Regions from separate parts of the Homo sapiens genome. Here region 2 is linked to region 1. Evidence: fine-mapped expression QTL. A gene starts in region 1. The other region holds a variant in brackets. All regions are shown on one strand. Distances are from middle to middle.

Region 1 (8,739 bases):
GCCCAAAGGAGGAGAGGCCTGGCGTCCCGGGACCGCGGGTACTCCCAGAAGACGCAGTCAGATGTGAGGGAACTTCCCGGGAGCAGGAGGGTGCAGAGGAGGAGGAGGGCATGGGAAGTGCTGAGGGTGGACAGCCAGGGAGTCCCCGGCAGGCGGGCCCCTCTGCAGCACCAGCCAGCCGGCTCCCTGAGTGCCAGGCAACAAACACCCTGTGACCTCTATCTGCGTGTGAGGAGGAGAGGTCCTCTCCGAAAGGCAGCCAGTTCTCCAAGGGAGGTCAGGGAAGCTCCAAGGATGAACCTCGGGACCCATGTGACTCACTCAGGCGACGCAGTCTCCTAGACACAGGAAGTCAGTTAAAAGGCCCAAACACCCACTCCCACCTATGGACTATGAGCCCATAGACTCCCAGAGCCCCCAGAGGGCCTGGGGGGCCTGCAGGCGGGAGGAGACCCACAGAGCAGCAACACTGGAACCTTCTGCTCATGTGAACACAGGCCGGGAGGTGGGCTGGTCCACTCAGTCCAGACCACCAAGAGTGCAGGGTCCCAAGCACTGTGCGCCCTTTCCCCATACCCCGTCCCACCAGGACTGCACACACCTGGGGTCATCTTACCACTCCCAGGAAGCCCCCTGACTCTCTGGGGGCCCCACTGGACTGGGGATTCCATGAGGGCAAGATTCCGGTCTCGTTTTCTGTGGGTGGCCCAACACCCAGCACACGGCGTGGGCCTAACACCCAGCAGATGGTGAGAAAAACTGAGAATGAGGAGCAGCTGTCTGGAGATTCTGCAGGAGAGGAGGCCCCGCCCTGGCTGCCATGCGCCTGCCTGTGGTTTCTCTGCAATGCGACCTCCCTGAGCCCACCCCAAGCTCCACATGCCCAGACCCCTCCAATGTCAGGGTTTCTGTCACAGAACTGCAGTTTGGGACAACTCATGGCTTTGCAGCGGCCTGGACTGTGGTGAGGATGTTAGTTTTGATGAATCCATGACCATAGCCTCAACCGTGGCGGCTCCAGGGAAGAGAGGAAGGCAGGACAGGAGGAGGGCGTGGAGGGCCTAGCTCCAGTGTGTCCAGCCAGCACCCTAGCGGCGTGACCGTGAAGAAGAATGTTTCAAATGTGACCTCCCCAAAAAGCCTGGGGTTGAGAGGAGGAAAGGAAGGGGCGTACAACGGCATACTTTATCTTTAATACTAGCTTTGAACTACCATTGTGATGAACTTCTATTGTGTTGGGTACAGAATGATTCTGTATTCAAAAACCAACCATTTCTACACAGCTGAACTAAGTAAGGCCTCCAGAGGGGAGGCGCTCTGCAGGAGACCCAACAGCAAGGCCAAACCGCCGACCGAGCAGCACAGGGCGCGGGCTCCTGCCATTCCAGAGCTCCCTTCACACTTGCAGCTGAGGGAGCTCAAAGGTCGATCCAAACTGAGTCATGGATGGGCTTATTCCACTGTTTTCCAAAGCCCCCAAGCCACAAATCAAACAACCCAGTATCAGACCCGCTTAAACACACTCCTGGAGCATTTGAGGGGAAGGAGCAATAAGATGTTTTCCAATGGCTCTGATTTAATCTTTTGGGGGACTGGGATGGAGGTGAGTCTCTAAAAGCAAAGGGACGGTGTGATGGTTGGATGAGCCAACTAACTTTGGGGCAGGTTTTTTTTTAAATTTTCATATATAGTATATTCCCAATTTCTACCAAAAAATTGTAATAGAAAATAATCACATATACATGAGAGCACAGTCCTGGGAGAAAGCCGAAAGTGGACATGAAATGTTGCTTCACGTGTAGCATGTATCATGTAGAACTGTGTCATCTCAAGCAACAGCCTACCAGACCATGCCCCCAGAGACCCCTCAACAGGATATCCCCGCAGAATAGGTCTCCCTCTTCCCTCAGTCCCTGCCTCCCCAGGCTGCACTCACTAGCGCTCGCTCATGACACCTGTCCACTGTGCCTAGGTCCGCACAGCTACACCCTCACGTTCTCCCAGGAGACACGGGACTTGCTAAAAATCACGCGGCTGCAATGCATCCAGCCAGGACTCCATTCTGGCCACCAGCGCTACGCTCCTCCTCTTGGCCACAGGAATAGCGTCAGGAGCTGCGCTTCTCTCCCAGAGCTTCTGTTTCCACCGCCAGAAAATGGGTATGTTCATTTCTCCAGTAAAGTGTTTAGTTCTATAAGGGATTCGATCAACTTAACAGCTACCAGTCTACCTGCCTCACAGAATCAACGTGACTCAACAGCGACATTTCGAAGTATCACTGAAGACTGCAAAAACCCCTGAAAGTTTAAGATAGAAATGGATGCAAATGTACCCTATGAGGAAGTGTTGTGCGAGTGGACGATGATGTCACCCGTCTACTCTCAGCTCCTTTTTCAAATTCGGTGAGGCGTTTGTGGACGAGCACACCATGCAAAGCGGAGCAGAGGACCCCATGTGTGTCCTACGACACTTATTTTAACATGTTATTTTCAACAAGCAATTAATATTCCGGGGCAAAACATACCGCAAGCTTTATGAAACTGACCAGATGGGAAAAATCTTTGAGGTGCCATTTTTCCACTGGCTCAGCAAGAATTACATTATCCAGACCCAGGGAAACCTCACCCGGCTCCATTCTAAAAGTCCACTGCTGTTGAGTGAGATGCCCCCGAGTCGTCCGGCCTGGGCTGACCATTCACGGGCTCTGGAAAGAAAGCCTTGGTCTCTCTGCGGAGGAGGAGAGGAACTCGGGCCCCCGCCCCGCCCCAGGGCCTCCAGGAAGCAGCCTGCAAACTCGGCGACCCCTGGGAGCCGTGGTCTGTCCCAGCACTTTGTTTCGGAGGTAGGCGCACTGGCCGCCCACTTCCTGAATTGTTCACTCAATTTTTTTACAACTTTTGCAGACTCTTTGCTGGTGCCAAAAAGTCCTCTGGCTCAGCTAAGAAACGTGAAAACTATTTTTGGCATGCAGAAAAGTCGCTACAGGACTAAATTAGAGTCGGCGCCTGAAACGCAGCCCGCGTTCACAGATCCCGAAAATGTTGAATCCGACTCGCTTCAGAACACAGGAGGCCTGCAGCGAACTCTGGCGGCATCTCGGTACCTGGAGCCGCGGGGCGGAGGGATGGGGATTCCTGCTGTGGAGACCGTGACGCGGGACGGCCCGCAGGACAGGGTGTCAACCCCAACGCAACGCATCCGGTTAAACGTATAGCGCAACTGCGAACACGCTCGCGTGGATTAGAAGCGAAAGAAGAGAAATGCCCGAGGCAGAAACCCGCTCTGAGTCCCGGCTCCATCTAGACCCGGGCTGCCCCGAGACTACCGCGCGGCCCCTCTCGGGAACCCCGGCCGCCCGGCTCGCTCCGGGCGCAGGAAAAGCCCCTGAGAAGCGCGGGGCCCCCAGGACACCCCAGGAGAGGACGCTCCGGGCAGATGCGGGGGCACTGGGAGCGGGGGCGCCGCGGCTGCGGGAACTGAGGCTCCTCTGGGGAGGCTTCCCCGGCGCGGGGGGATGGGGTGGGCACTGCGCTCCAAGGGGCGGGGGAGGGGGAGAGGGCGGAGGCTGGGGGAGGAGAAGGAAGGGGGGGAGGAGGAGGGGAAGGGAGGAGGAGGAGGAAGGGGAGGAGGAGGAGGAAGGGGAGGAGGAGGAGGAAGGGGAGGAGGAAGAGGAGCGGAGGAGGGGAGCGAACAGGACGAGGAACGGGGCGGAGGGGGCTGGGAGGACGGAGGGGGCTGCGCCGCGCTCGGGGAGCGGAGGGGGACCGAGGGGTCCTGAGCGGGGGAAAGGTGAGCGGAGGAGGGGCCGCGAACCAGGGGGAAGCGGGAGGCCGGCGGAGCATGAGAGGGGGCGGCGGGAGGCGAGCGGGGGGAGCCCCGGAGGCTCCAACAACTTCCCAGTCCTGCGGGGATTCCGAGTTCCGAACAAAGGCGGCTACGAAGGCCGCGCGCACAGCGCTCTGTTCCGCCCCTCGGCGTCTCCCGCAGGGCGAACAAAGGCCCAGCGGGTCCCCGCGCCCAGGTCCCCCCACGTCCCCCTTCGGAGGTTCCCTTCTGCGTCCCAAGTCCCCAGGCCCCCCGCGCGCCCGATGCCCCCTCCACCCTCCGCGCCCCCCACCTCCGATCACCCCTGCGCTCCCGGATCTCCACGAAGCCCCGGACCCCGCGCCCCCGGCGTCCCCCGCGGCACTCACAGGATGGAGGTCTGCGGCGCCACGGCGGGCACGGCCTCCAGCAGCAGATGCATGCAGCGCACGGTGGTGCGGAAGCACAGGCAGCGGCTCGGACACCCTGCGCCCGGCTTCTGGGCCACCACGGCCAGCGTCCCCCAGGCGCAGAACAGCACGAGCGCCAACAGGCAGCGGCGCCCGGGGCCCCTGGAGCGCTTGGCCATGGCCGACGGCGCGGACGGACGCTCGGACGCACGGAGCCACCACGGCCGGCTCCCGACTGCGCCCGCCCGGCCGCGGCCCACGTCCCAGCTGTGCGCGGGGGGCGGGGGGCGCCAGCTGTGCACATGCGCGAGGCTCCTCCCGGCCCCTCTGAATCCCCGAGGGCGGGGCGGGGCGAGAACCCGGGGCCCCAGCGTCCGGCCTGAGCGCCCTCATCCCGGTGGGGCGGCCCGCATGGCCAAGGCGAGCGCTCGGGGGCGCGGAGGAGAGCATTGGCACCCCTGATTCTGCGCTCGAGACTCGGGGCTCGGGACCCTGGGGCCTACGCGAAGCTTCTCCACTTCTCTTACCCGTGGTTTCTGCCTGCGCTCACTACGGGTTTTTTAGTTGGCGCCTTAATGTTTGTAACACTTTTAGAGCGCTTGCTCTGATCCGGGCACGATTCCAGGCGCGCAGGCGCGCTCCTCTCTTTCTCCTTCTCCCTACCCGCAACCACGTAGGAAATTATTTAACGTTCCAAAAAAGCCCCTCATTCCTTTTGAGGAAACTGAGGCCCAAGCCCCAAAGCGCACAGCAAGGGAGTCTGCGGGAAGATTAGACCCAGGCGGTCCGGCTCCCCGGGGCCTGTCAGCCACCTGCTCTCTGCCGGCCGCCTGGCTCAGCACAGTTGGGAAAATGAAAGGTCCTGTGTGGAGTCCTTGGCGCGGCGCAATGCAGCCCCCGGGATTCTCGCGGCCTTCAGTGCGTGCCCTCCTGGGACAGACCTAGGAGGAGACCCAGGGAACCCCCCCCCCCCACGTCGGGTGTGTCTAGAGACAGCAGAAGACTTTGGAAAGGAGGGAAGACACTGCGTGAGATACGCACAAAGGTGGCGTTCTCACATAGTTCATACATTCTCTCCAATCATCTCACAAGGACCCAGTCTGAATTTCACAGACAAGGAAGGTGAGGCCAAGTTGCTGAACCCAGGCCACAGGGTGACGGTGCCAGATTCAGAGGCACAGCATGGGCGTGTTCCCGTCGCAAACCCCAAGTCTCAGCTGTGTCCCCGTGCTGGTGTTCTAGCCTGAGCTGCGTTTGAAAGCAGCCTGGAATGGGATTGGTGGGTAATAGGCTAGTTTCCTGTTGCTATGTTAAAACACAAAAGCAACTACCACGAGACATAGCCCGGAGGTCACAGGTGCATTGCTGACCACAGGGCACCATCTAAGGACTGGACCCCCGAGGCTGCTGGCAGGGGGTTCCAGTTCCTTGCCGTGTGGGTCTCCATGGCCTGCACACTGGACATGGCCTGATGCCTCCCAGAGCAGGTATTAGAAGAAAGAGGAAGAGAATGAGAGTACAACACAGAAGCCAGGGTAAAACCTAACCCAGCCTTGGAACTGGCCCCGCATCACACCTGCGGGGTGCATCCTCAGAGGTCGGTGGCTCCCGCTGACATTCCAGATGCCATCTTTCCTGCAGGATTTTATCCACCCTCTACAGCGGATGCAGCTCACACTCCGGATTCCATTTCTCCTGCAGGATCCTATTCACACACTCCGGTGGGCCCAGCTCACACTGCAGACAACATCTCTCCTGCAGGATACTATCCACACACAGAAGTGGGTCCAGCTCACACTGCAGACATCTCTCCTGCAAGATCCTATTCACACATTCCAGTGACTCCAGTTCACACTGTAGATGCCAAAACTTATGCAGGATTCTATGCACACACACTAGTGGTGCATTTCACACTCCGGATGCCGTATCTTCTGCAGAATCCTGTCCACACATTTCAGTGGGTCCAGTTCACGCTCTACATGTGCTCTCTCCTGCGGGCTCCTATCCACACACTCCGGAGGTGCCATTCACACTCTAGATGCCATCTCTCCTGCAGGACGATGTCCACACCCTCCAGTGGGTCCAGTTCACACTCTAGAGGACATCACTTTTGCAGGATCCTCTCTACACATTCCACCGGTGCCATTCACACCACAGATGCTGTCTCTTTGCAGAGTCCTATCCACATGCCCCAGGGCTGCAGCTCACACTGCAGACACCATCACCCCTGCAGTATCCTATCCACACACCTCAGTGGGTCCCATTCACACTCCAGAGGCTATCACTTTTGCAGGATCCTATACACACACTTTAATGGGGCCAGCTCACAGTCCAGAAGCCGTTACTCCAGCATGATTCTAGCTACACACCCCAGTGGCCCAGTTTACACTGCAGATGCCTTGTCTTCTGCAGGATCCTCTCCAGGCACAACAGTGGGTCCAGTTCACACTCCAGTTGCCATCTCTCCTGCAGGACCCTACCCATACACTCAAGTGGGTCCAGTTCACACTCCAAATGCCATCCACCTGCAGCATCCCAACCTCTCACTCAAGTGGGTGCAGTTCACACTCCAGTTGCCATCTCTCCTGCAGGACCCTACCCACACACTACAGTGCTCCACTTCACACAGCAGACATCATCACTGCTGAAGGCTGCTGTCCACACAGTCCTGTGGATGCAGTGCTCACTCCACATGCCATCACTCTTGCAGGATCCTACCCACACACTCGAGGCAGTCCAGATCACACTGCAGATGTCATCACTCCTGCAAGATGCTATCCATACACTCCAGTGGGTTCGGTTCACACTGCAGATGCCATCTCTCCTCAAAGATCCTGTCTACACATAGCAGTGGTTGAGTTTGGGTCCCACCCAAAGATTCCAGTGGGTCCGCTTCCCACTGCACACGCCATCTCACCTGCAGGATTCTCTCCATACACTCCACTCAGTCCAGTTTACATTCTACATGTCGTCTCTCCTGCAAGATTCTATCCACACACTCGAGTAGGTCCAGCTGAAACTCCATATGCCATCGCCCCTGCGGGATCCTGCGCACACTCTCCAGTGGGTTCAGATTAGACTCCGGGTGCCATCGCCCCTGCGGGATCCTGCGCACACATTCGAGTGGGTTTAGTTCAGATTCCGATGCCATCACCCCTGCAGGGTCCTGTCCACGCACTCCAGAGGATTCATTTCAGACTCCGGGTGCCATCGCCCCTGCGGGATCCTGTGCACACACTCCAGTGGGTTCAGATTAGACTCCGGGTGCCATCACCCCTGCAGGATCCTGTGCACACACTCCAGTGAGTTCAGCCATCACCCCGCAGGATCCTGTGCACACACGCCAGTGGGTTCAGCCATCACCCCGCAGGATCCTGTGCACACACACCAGTGGGTCCAGATGCAGATGCCATCACTCCTCCTGGATCCTCTCCACACCCTCCTGTTGTTCCAGCTCACACTGGACGCCATCTCTCCTGCTGGATTCCATCCACAGATGCTCTTGCGTCCAGCACATGCCACAGCAGAGCATCAACTGGGAGCGTAAGGAACATGAGACAGAACCACTGGGGACCATCTTAGAGGCTGCCTACCACGTGTCACTCTTGAGTTTGTGTAGAACAGGGATGCTTGTGAGAATGCTTCTTCTGTATTTCCATAATGGCAGAATGCTGGGTGGGAGCTGCAAACATTATATTCAGCAGAGGAGGAGACAGAGTCCTAGGCAGACTTCAGTACAGTCCTGCTGTTAAGTACCTGGAGCTAGAGCAGACCCCGCAGGTTACAGATGTGGATGGACCTCAGTAAGGCTGCCCTCACTTTAATACTACCTGTGTGTCCAGTGGTCCCCAGGCCATCCACACTTCTGACTGGTTACAGATTCATAGGTTTCTGAGACCCCCTCCAGCTCCATCTCCTGCTGGAACCACCCACACAACAGATGAAAGTGCTGTGGTTACAAATACAGCTGTATTATAATTGATACCAATCTGAACCTCCAAATGAAATACATCAGGTGAGGTCAGGGAGGGTCCCAAATGCAGAGCCTCTGTGCCTGGCCTGTGGGATCAGGGCCCATCACCACCCGGCACAGGGACATGATCACCAACAGGGAAGCTCTACTGAGCTTTGGTGTCCAGAGTTTTCACCAGGGTTTTATGGCTCAAGCAGGACTGATGACACACTGTCCATGGGGTTGAACTCTCCAGGGAGGTCAGGCTGACAGCACAAGGCCCAAACACTTCACCCTACAATCGCATGGTCAGTCCTAGTGATCAGCCTCCATCCTGTGTTCCTTCATCAGCGTCAGCTCAGACATGGCTGGGAGCTCATCATGAATACACACGCTCCTGTCCCTGGGGAAATTCCAAGGGCTTTGGAAGCTCTGTCCCGGGAACCTGAGGAAAAGACCCAATTCCTTCTCAAACACACAAGCTTTACATGGATACTCGTGTTTAGGAAAGTGGCACCCGCTGCTGTGTCTGCCGTTTTAAGCAAGCACCCCGCTCACAAGGCGTAATTACCT
Region 2 (8,739 bases), 79 kb after region 1:
AGGGTGCTCTCAAACCATGGAGAGAGGGAAGCGTTTCTAGAACAGTGACCTCTGTGGCAGGTGGACGCCTCGGCCACAGCCACACAGGCAGGTGGTGCAGAAAGTGCAGCTGTGGGTGGCCGTGTGACCACCCAGATGGCCCCCAGCTCCCAGCTCCCAGACCAGGTCCCTCCCACTGGGGTGCATGTCCACCTGCCTCAGGAAACAAAGGTCCCTCTCAAAGCCTGAGGGATGGCAGCTACCCACACAGCTCATTCCTGCAGCCCAGGGAGTCCACCTGCCTCCTGCCCAAGGGATGGATTCTGGAGCCACTGCTATTCGGCAGTGACAATCAAAACACTGTTAGGAGAAGAAGGCCTGAGAAGAGACGTTTTGAAGAGCCACTTCCATAGGTCATCAAACGTCCTATCTCTATTCACTCATCAGCAACACTTACCTCCTGTCCTCAAGCACAGTCCTAACAGGAGGGTCATGACAATGCTAACAGCAGTGGTGAGCTGCTGTAAATGCTTTACTTATCACATGCTGGCATGCTCTTCAGACTTGGCCCACTGCTCAAACAATCTATGACCATCCCATTTTACAGAGGAGAGAATCGAGACGCAGAACAGCTAACTTGCCCCAGACCATACAGTCAGAAAAGGCAGGGCTGAGTTTATACCCAGGCCATCCAGCACCAGCCTCACCCTCCACTCCTCCTCCTGCAGCCTCTCTCCATGCACCCGTGAGTGACAGATGCTACACTCGGGCCCTGCCAGTGCAGTTCGGGCAGAGGCCCCTGTGAATACACATGCCCTACAGGGATGCACATGGTCCGATGATGTGATGCTCTGCAGCATTACAGAGGGAGGTGGAGTCCGCATGGGTATTTAAAGACAGACATTTGTTTGAAGAGGACAAGGAGCAGTGGAAGGGCCAAAGAAGCCTGAGCAGCATGTCTTCAGCTTTGAATTTAGGTCTGGGTGCAACCAAGGGGCAGAGAGGCAGGGAGCTGGAGGGATGGGTAAGAGCTTATTAGGGAAGATCTCAAGTGCCTTACAGAGGAGAATGGATTTAGCTTCTAGGCAATGACAAAGGATTGGAAGCATGTAATCCTGGCAACCACACAGTAGAGTTTGCTTGGTAGAGAGCTCACTGGCAGCAGCCTGGAGGATGCTTGCAGAGGGCAGAGGGCAGTGGGGGGGGGCCAGCGAGGAAGCTGGCAGAGGGGCCTGGGGGAGGAATGAGGGAGTACAGCCTGAGGCAGCAATGGGTTCAGAAGAGAGCACCCACTCAAGAGGAGTAAGAAGGGCTGGGGCTTGGTCACCCATTGGATGGGGCTTGCTGCTTTTGCATTCCAAATTGATAGTTTGGTTGAGTATAGAATACTGAGTGTGCAATCATTTTCCTAAGAGTTTTGAAGGCATTGTTCTATTTGATTCTTGTTTCCAGCATTGCTGTTGAGTACATCTCTTAGCTTCCTTTTCTTTTGTCTCTCACTTTGTCTCTGTTTGTCCCTCTCTTTCTCTGTATCCCCACTCCAGGTTCTCAAAATTTCATGATGATGAACCTCTGTGTGGTTGGCTATGACAGTTTTATATGTCAACATGGAGAGGACACAGCATCCAGTTGTTTAATCAAATACTTATCTAAGTGTTGCTGCGAAGGTATTTTGTAGAGTGACTAACATCTACCATCAGTTGGCTTTTTGTTGTTGTTGTTGTTGTTGTTGAGACAGGGTTTTGCTGTTGTTACCTAGGCTGGAGTTCAGTGGCATGATCATACTCACTGCAGCCTCCAACTCTTGGGCTCAAGCAATTCTCACTCCTCAGCCTCCCAAATAGCTATGACCACAGCCATGTACCACCATGCCTGGTTAATTTTTAAATTTTTTGTAGAGATGATGTCTTGCCATGTTGCCCAGGTTGGTCTTAAACTCTTGGGCTCAAGTGATCCTCCTGCGTCCTCCTCCCTAAATACTGGGATTACAGGTGTGAGCCACCACACTTGGCCTAGCTGACTTTAAGTAAGGAGATTATTCTCAATACTCTCAGTGGGCCGGACTCAAGCAGTCAAAAGACCTTAAGAATATAACTAAGGTTTCCCCGAGGAAGAAGAAATTCTCCCTGTGGAATGGAACTTCTCCTGAACAAGAGTTTCTAGGCTGCCTGTCTGCCCTACAGATTTTGGACTTGTGGAGCCGGTCCCAGATGGTGTCAGCCAGTTCCTTGTGATGAACCCGTCCATATATAAATCCTACTGGTCCTGCTTCTCAGGTAGAGCCCCGGACGACATAGAACCATTTCATGATTGCGTGGCTACTCAACGAGGCCTTTATATCTGAAAACTCAAGATCTCTGCCATGGGGATTTTCCTTGTTTTCTTTCTTTGGGAATTTTCTTTCTTCCATTTGCTCTACTCTCGCTACTTCTTCAGAAACTCCTATTAGTTGATTACTAACTCTCCTGAATTCTTTATTTTTTTTTAACAAAATCTTTTATCTTCTTTTCTCATCTCTTTATAATTTATGGGACATTACCTCAATTTTACATTTTAACTTTCAAAGTAAACTTTTTATTTATTTTTTAAAATAGATATTCGTGTTCTCTGAATGTTTCTTGGGTTATGAATACAATATATTTTAATGTTCTTTCTGTTCTTTTCTGTCTGATGACAAATTATAGGTTTTTAAAAAGATTGCTCCTCTTTCCAGAAATGTTTCTGCTTCCTCTGAGCTTCTTTTGCCCCCTGGTAAGGCTGGTTTGTTTGCTTGGTTTCTGCCATGTTGTTTACTGCTTGCCTTCAGTGGCCGGAGTCCTTGGCTGTTCACGCATACATCCCAGACATTGGTGCCTGGAGGCCCTTTATCTTGAATCTGTTGGTTCTAGAGAAGAGGCCCCTGCTCTGTCTGGAGTGGCGGGGAGTGGAGAAGGCAGAGGAGCAGGAGGAGCCGCTGGATTCCCGGAGCCACACGGGACCAAGGCCTTGGGGCCTGTCCATCTCACTTGACGTTCCCATCTTCAGTACAACGGCTCATCCTGTTTCCAGCTCTTCCTAGCACTAGCTCCAGAGCTTCTGTTCTAGCTTATCCTTCTGCCGGGGAGAAGGAGGCCTGTGGCAGGGCATCCGGGAGTCGAACCCCTCTTAGACAATTCAACTACTCCTCTGTTTTCCGACCAACTCTGAATCCCCACTCTAGGTCCCAGCCTCTTTTCTATGGAGGTTCTGCATGCTCTTCACTCCTCTTTTTCTGGGTTCTTTCTTCACTCTTTCTCTCCACCCCCATCCTCTCCCTCCCCAACAGCTCCTCTGCAGGGAGCTGAGGCCTGAGCCATGTGTGCTTGGGCTGGGCGGCTCCCAGTGCTTTGTGGATGGGATGGTCTGCACTTCCCTTCCTTATTTAGTTATTTAGTTGCATTATATTTGTGGGTTTATAAGAGGAGAGTGGGTCATTTTAGTAGTGTTTTAAGATTTAGTGGAGATATATGTGATTTCAGTCTGCAGAGCTTGGCTAGGATTCCCAATAGAGATGCCTAATAAACCCAGTATTGAGGAACACACGTGCACCTTTCTGCAAGGTGTCTGCCATCTTTGTGTGGGTTGGGTCTGTTTCCTGGAGAGCGCAGGGTGTGTCCACTGTCAGCCCCTCTTCCCCAGGGATGCTCCTGCGTGCTCAGCAGGCACTTGGCTGCCACAGGATGGCGAGGGCTGGCCCTGGGACCACATGGATCTGAGGGTGGAGGCAGAAGTGTGGCCTACAGCCTGTGTCCTTCGAGAGGGTCCCCTTCCTTCCTCCAGGGACAGGATGGCTGTTGTGGTAGCAAACTCACCCTGAGGTGGTCTCCGAGTGTCAGGGGCTGAGGTGCAGGACCCGGATATCTGGGTCCCTGGCAGTCAGAAGCCACCGCCTCATGGCTGCTGCTGTGTCCACGGTGAAACCCTCCTCTCCTGTGAAGGAGCCACTGCCTCACCAGGGCTGCTGTGTCCACAGTGAAACCCTCCTCTCCTGGAGGGTTTCTCTTTCTCAGGAGCAGCTGCTTGCTGCTGAGGACTGAGTGTAATCCTAGCAGAAGGGAAATGTTTAGTTTTGTTTCTCCTTTTGCTTGCCTCTCAGGAGCCTCGGTTGTTAACGTTATCACTGCTGTGGCTTGGCTGTGTCTCCTGAAGGGATATGTTGATGGCCTGGCCCCTACACCTGTGAAAGGGACCTTATTGCACCTCGTTTTCTTTTTAACATGTGAACCATAACTCTTCTGCAAATGTGAGCTTTTGCCCTAAGCTCCTCAAATGGCATCGACACGTGGGAGGAAAAGATCCTCAATGAGGAGACACCTGTCCTGCTGCACAGCCCTGTGGCAGCTTGGCCTCCCCAGGCAGACCCAGCAGGGGCACCCAGCTGGTGGTGCTGGCTGTTATAGTCGTGGTGGTTGTGGTAGTGAGGGCTGTTGCTGCTGTTGTCAGAGCTGTGGCTGTGAGGCTGTTGTTGCTGTGGTTGTGGCTGCAACCTTCATTGTCATAGATATAGCTGTGGCAGCTGTAGTTGTAGCCTTCTCTCCACTTGGGGCACTCAGGTCCACCCTATCTGGCTCAGGGCTTCGGCTCCGGGGTCCTGGAGGAGGGAGCAGGCAGTGGGCTGGAGTGGGTGTGGTTGACGCTGGAGGGCAGCCTCTGAGCAGCTCCCCCAGGACGGAAGCGAAGGCTGCAGGCGGGGCTTGGGTCAGGCTCCTGGGAGAAGCAGTGACGAGGCTGGGTGCCTGCAGGAAGACCCTCAGCTGGCTGCATGTTCAGCCCTGCAGGTGGGTCGTGCTCCTGGGAGGAGCAGCGATGAGGCTGAGTGCCTGTAGGAAGACCCGTGGCTGGCCGCATGTTCAGCCCTGCAGGTGGGTCAGGCTCCTGGCACGAGCAGCGATGAGGCTGGGTCCCTGTAGGAAGATCCGTGGCTGGAGGCGTGTTCAGCCCTGCACTGCCAGTGGTGGCGGCCCTCGTCCCGTGTGGTCAAATTTACATTTATATTTACTGAAATCTAACAATTTTTAAAAGTTCTCTGTCACAGGAGCCAAACTTCAAGAGCTGAGTAGTCTCAGGTGTCCAGTGACCATTACGTGGCACAGTGTTGGCCTGGGCCTCGCCGTCCCTGGCACGACCCATGGGATGAGGCCGCGCCTCCCCCCCCAGCGGGGCCGCCGGGCAGAGGTGATGTGGGATGCTCAGTGACTTTTTAGGGAACGTGCCAAGCCCTCTCCATGGGGGTTGGGGAA[C/T]GTTTTTAGTTTGGATTCTAAACAGAGAGTGATTCTTGCTATGGAACAAATTTAAATAATAGCTAATAAAGCAGACTAGACTTACTAAACATATTCCTATGCTTAGGAGCCTGCATTAAGCATTTTAGATACATGACCCCAACCAATTCTTCCAACAATCTGTAATGTAGATTCAGTTTGGTATTTTCTCCACGTCTCTCTAGGGTTAGGTAATTTTGTGCCCAGCAGAGCAGGGCGGTGCTCTGTCCTCTGGGAAATACTGCCTTCCTGGAATGTTCCCTCCAACCCAGAGTGCTGAGAAGGCTGGCAGGATAGAGGCCAGAACATGTCTGACGTCAGCGCCAGCCTGGACGGAGAGCTCGGATCCCAGAGAAGGCTGAGCACAGGGAGGAGAGGGGCATGGGCCTCTGCATTTGAGCTGCTCTCGTCCTGAAGTTTGTGCCCTGGGCCCTGTGAGAACTCAGGGGCCAGCCTGTGACACCCCGGCCAGGCCATGCGAGGGTGGCGCCGGGACGCCGCCCTCTGCGGCTCCTTTGGGGAGCACTGACCAGCACTCAGGGATGGATCCGTGCAGCGAGTTGTCGAGAGGAGAGAGTGGAGGAGGACTCCGCAGTATCCCGGCTGATGCATATTGAGTCATCCAGAGGAGAGAGAGGGGGAGGACTCCGCAGTATCCCGGCTGATGCATAATTTGTTCTTCTTATGCATTTTACCACCATTTTGGCTAGCATTTGGTGCTTCAAGGAACAGCTGTTAGAAGCGAAAATCAGAGAAAAAGGCATTTGCGTTTCAAAGGCTTCGCTTTGTGGATGACACATCCCAGAGATAGGAGGAACTCCTGGCAGCAGCCATAGATTTGGAAGGATGCATCCCCATCAGGTAGCGGTGGAGGAATCTCCAGGGAGGAGACAGAGAAGGGAGAGGACAGGAGGGAGAGGAGTAAGGGGTTTGGATGCCTGTGGGTCCTCAGAGAGTGGCCTGAGAGCCAGACTTTCTCCCTTTCCCCTGAGAGCAACATGGAGCTGGGGAAAGAGACCTCAGACACGCCACTCCCCTGCCTTCCTGATGGCGACAGACACAGAGAGGCCTCAGGGCTGGGAGCCGGGAAGGTGGAGGAGCTGCCCATGAGGCTGGTGCTTTGGCAGGGAAAGGGGCCCCCCAGGAGCTGCCACCTGCCCCAAAGGTGCACCTGGGATGAAGATGGGGGGGAGGCACCACAGCGACCTAGTTATGGCGAGCAAGCTCTCACCATACAGTAGAGGAGGAGACAGAAATTAGTTCAGTTACAGAAAACAGATACATTGGTAGAATTTACATGTTATAACATAATTCCATTAAAAAGTTGGCATACTCCTGAAAACCTACTTACTCTTCCCTTAAGAATCAAGTAATATTATGTTTATTAGAAATTATTTGGAGAAATCAAAAGATTGGAATTACAGTCTTAGCTTCACACTAATTATGAGAACGTCAAAGTTTTTTGTTTGTTTAATTGAGATTAATTCACATATGGGAACCCGCTTTTAAAAGATCAGGTTCCCCATCTCTTTATTGGATATAAGAATGATCCTATTTGTTTGTACTGTTAATTTTTTGTTTGTATATTGGTTTTCCCTATAAAATTATAACAGGCTAAGTTTCTTGGGACAGAGACTGTCTTGAAATTTTTATTTCTCTGAAGATCCTAGCGCAGTGGCTGGATAGTCCCCTTCCAGTGGGCAGAATGCTAAGGTGGCCCCAAAGTCTCCCCGTGTGCACCTGCCGTGCGTGGGCCTCTGTCCTTGAGTGTGGATGGTCCTGTGAACACAGTATAGTCATTGCCCCCATGATGGGGTGACATCCTATGAGACCCCAGCCCAGCTGCCAAGCAGTGAGGCCACCGGCTGTGTGGCCAGGACCTGGGGGCCTCATCCGCGGAGGACGACTCTGCCCAACGTCCAGCAGGACAGTCGGGCCTGACAGCTGCAAGCTCAGGAGCTGAGTTCTGCCAGGAACCCGCATGAGCTGTGAGTTGGACTGTGAGCTCCAGGGGGGACGCCACCTGCAGAGGACCCCCTTAGGCCAGCCTGGGCTTCCACCATGGGAAAACTGAGCTAATGACAGGGCCTGGGTTTAAGCTGCTTTGTTTGTGCCACTTTGGAGAACAAACTAGAAGACCGGCACGGTGCTCGGGCATGGGACACAGTTCGGCTTCCTGCGCTGGCGCAGAGGGCCCTGCTGAAGCTCAGTGCTTTCATTCAGCATCTGCTGAATGCTTGCCAGGTCCTGGGGAGGGCTGGGGGGCGGGCGAATGTGGGAGTGCTTCAGGAGGGAATCTTCCTGCAAAAACAAAGCAGGGTCGCGCTCCACCCTGGTCAGCGCTGGGCCAGAACACTGGGTTGTTTCAGGCAGAGGAGGTTGACCAGATGTCACCTCTCCCTGCTGCTATTCACAGGGCCCTTTGGGATTCACAGTTCGAGACAGATGTTGAATCTGACTCTTTCCCTCCCAATTGCTTCCCGTCAAACACTAAAAGATGGAGATTAAAGGAAAAGAAGCAAAGGGTCTGAGGTGCTTTTAGGACGCAGCACCGGGTACCGGGTCAGTGCAGGGCCGGCGTCGGGGAAAGCGGAGGGCTCCCCTTGGAGGGTGTCTGGGCCTGAGGCAGAGCAGGGAGCTGACTCCAAAGGTCAGAGAAGTCAAGTCCCTGAAGGCTTCCTTGTAAAGTGGTTCAGTAAGGCCAGTTTTCCACAGGAGTGGCGTGGGGGCAGGGGGAGCATGGGGTGGGGGTCGGGAATGTAATTCTCAGAAGTGAGGTTCCTCATGAGAGCAGGTGGTGGGGTGGGGTGGGGCTCACTGACTGAGTCCTGCTTTCTCCAGAGCAGATGCAGGAGGAGGCGCATCCTGGCGAGGATCTCACTTTAGCAATCCCCACCCCTGCTGGTGCCCCAGACCCCTCCCCATCCTGCAGGGCTCTGGATGGGTCAACCTGCCTGGCCTCCAGGACTAGAGATCACGGCCTGGACACAGCGCAGCAACATTTCCTCTCTTTTCCCTGAGGTGGTGACCTGGCCAGATGACTGAAGGGCTGATAGTGAGGGGCTGCCAGCCCAGAATGGGGGCATGGGGCTTCGTAGGAGCTGGGGCACGGCAGGGTTCAGCCCTGGATGGAAATGCTCTCTGTCTCCCTCCCTTGTGCTGCATTTACTCCTGGGCTGGGGCCACCCTCCCTTCCACCTCCTGCAGATCACAGAGGGACCCAGAGCTCAGGAGAACTTTCTTCCTGTGTTATAAAACAAGGTATGCCATTGAAACATGCCTGGGTCAAACAGAAAGCTCCCACCGGGCCTGGAGGAGCCCCTGGCAATGTGGTCCTCATTCCCGCCACCCTCTGCCTAGAAGGGGATCTCAGAGAGTTGAGGGGACCTCTCTGGTTGGGAAAAGGGGAGCATCCAGGGAGCGCCAGGAGAGTCCTGGAGGAACATTCTGAGGTGACACGGCCCCAGGGCTCTGTCTACGGCAG

What was found.
Region 2: its variant is fine-mapped to the expression of PXDN in whole blood (TOPMed, PIP 0.94).

What each region holds. Positions count from the first base shown.
Region 1 is chr2:1,740,063-1,748,801 of GRCh38, forward strand. PXDN (peroxidasin) reads right to left here and starts at 4,453. Exons shown (of 23, transcript NM_012293.3): 1 at 4,194-4,453. The coding sequence starts at 4,393.
Region 2 is chr2:1,818,855-1,827,593 of GRCh38, forward strand. All of the region lies in intron 21 of MYT1L (myelin transcription factor 1 like), which reads right to left. It overlaps LOC124905967 (a long non-coding RNA gene), which reads left to right and starts at 4,691. Exons shown (of 4, transcript XR_007086192.1): 1 at 4,691-4,775; 2 at 5,441-6,116. RefSeq lists an enhancer at 7,239-7,796. The variant C/T (reference allele first, on the strand shown) is at 5,238.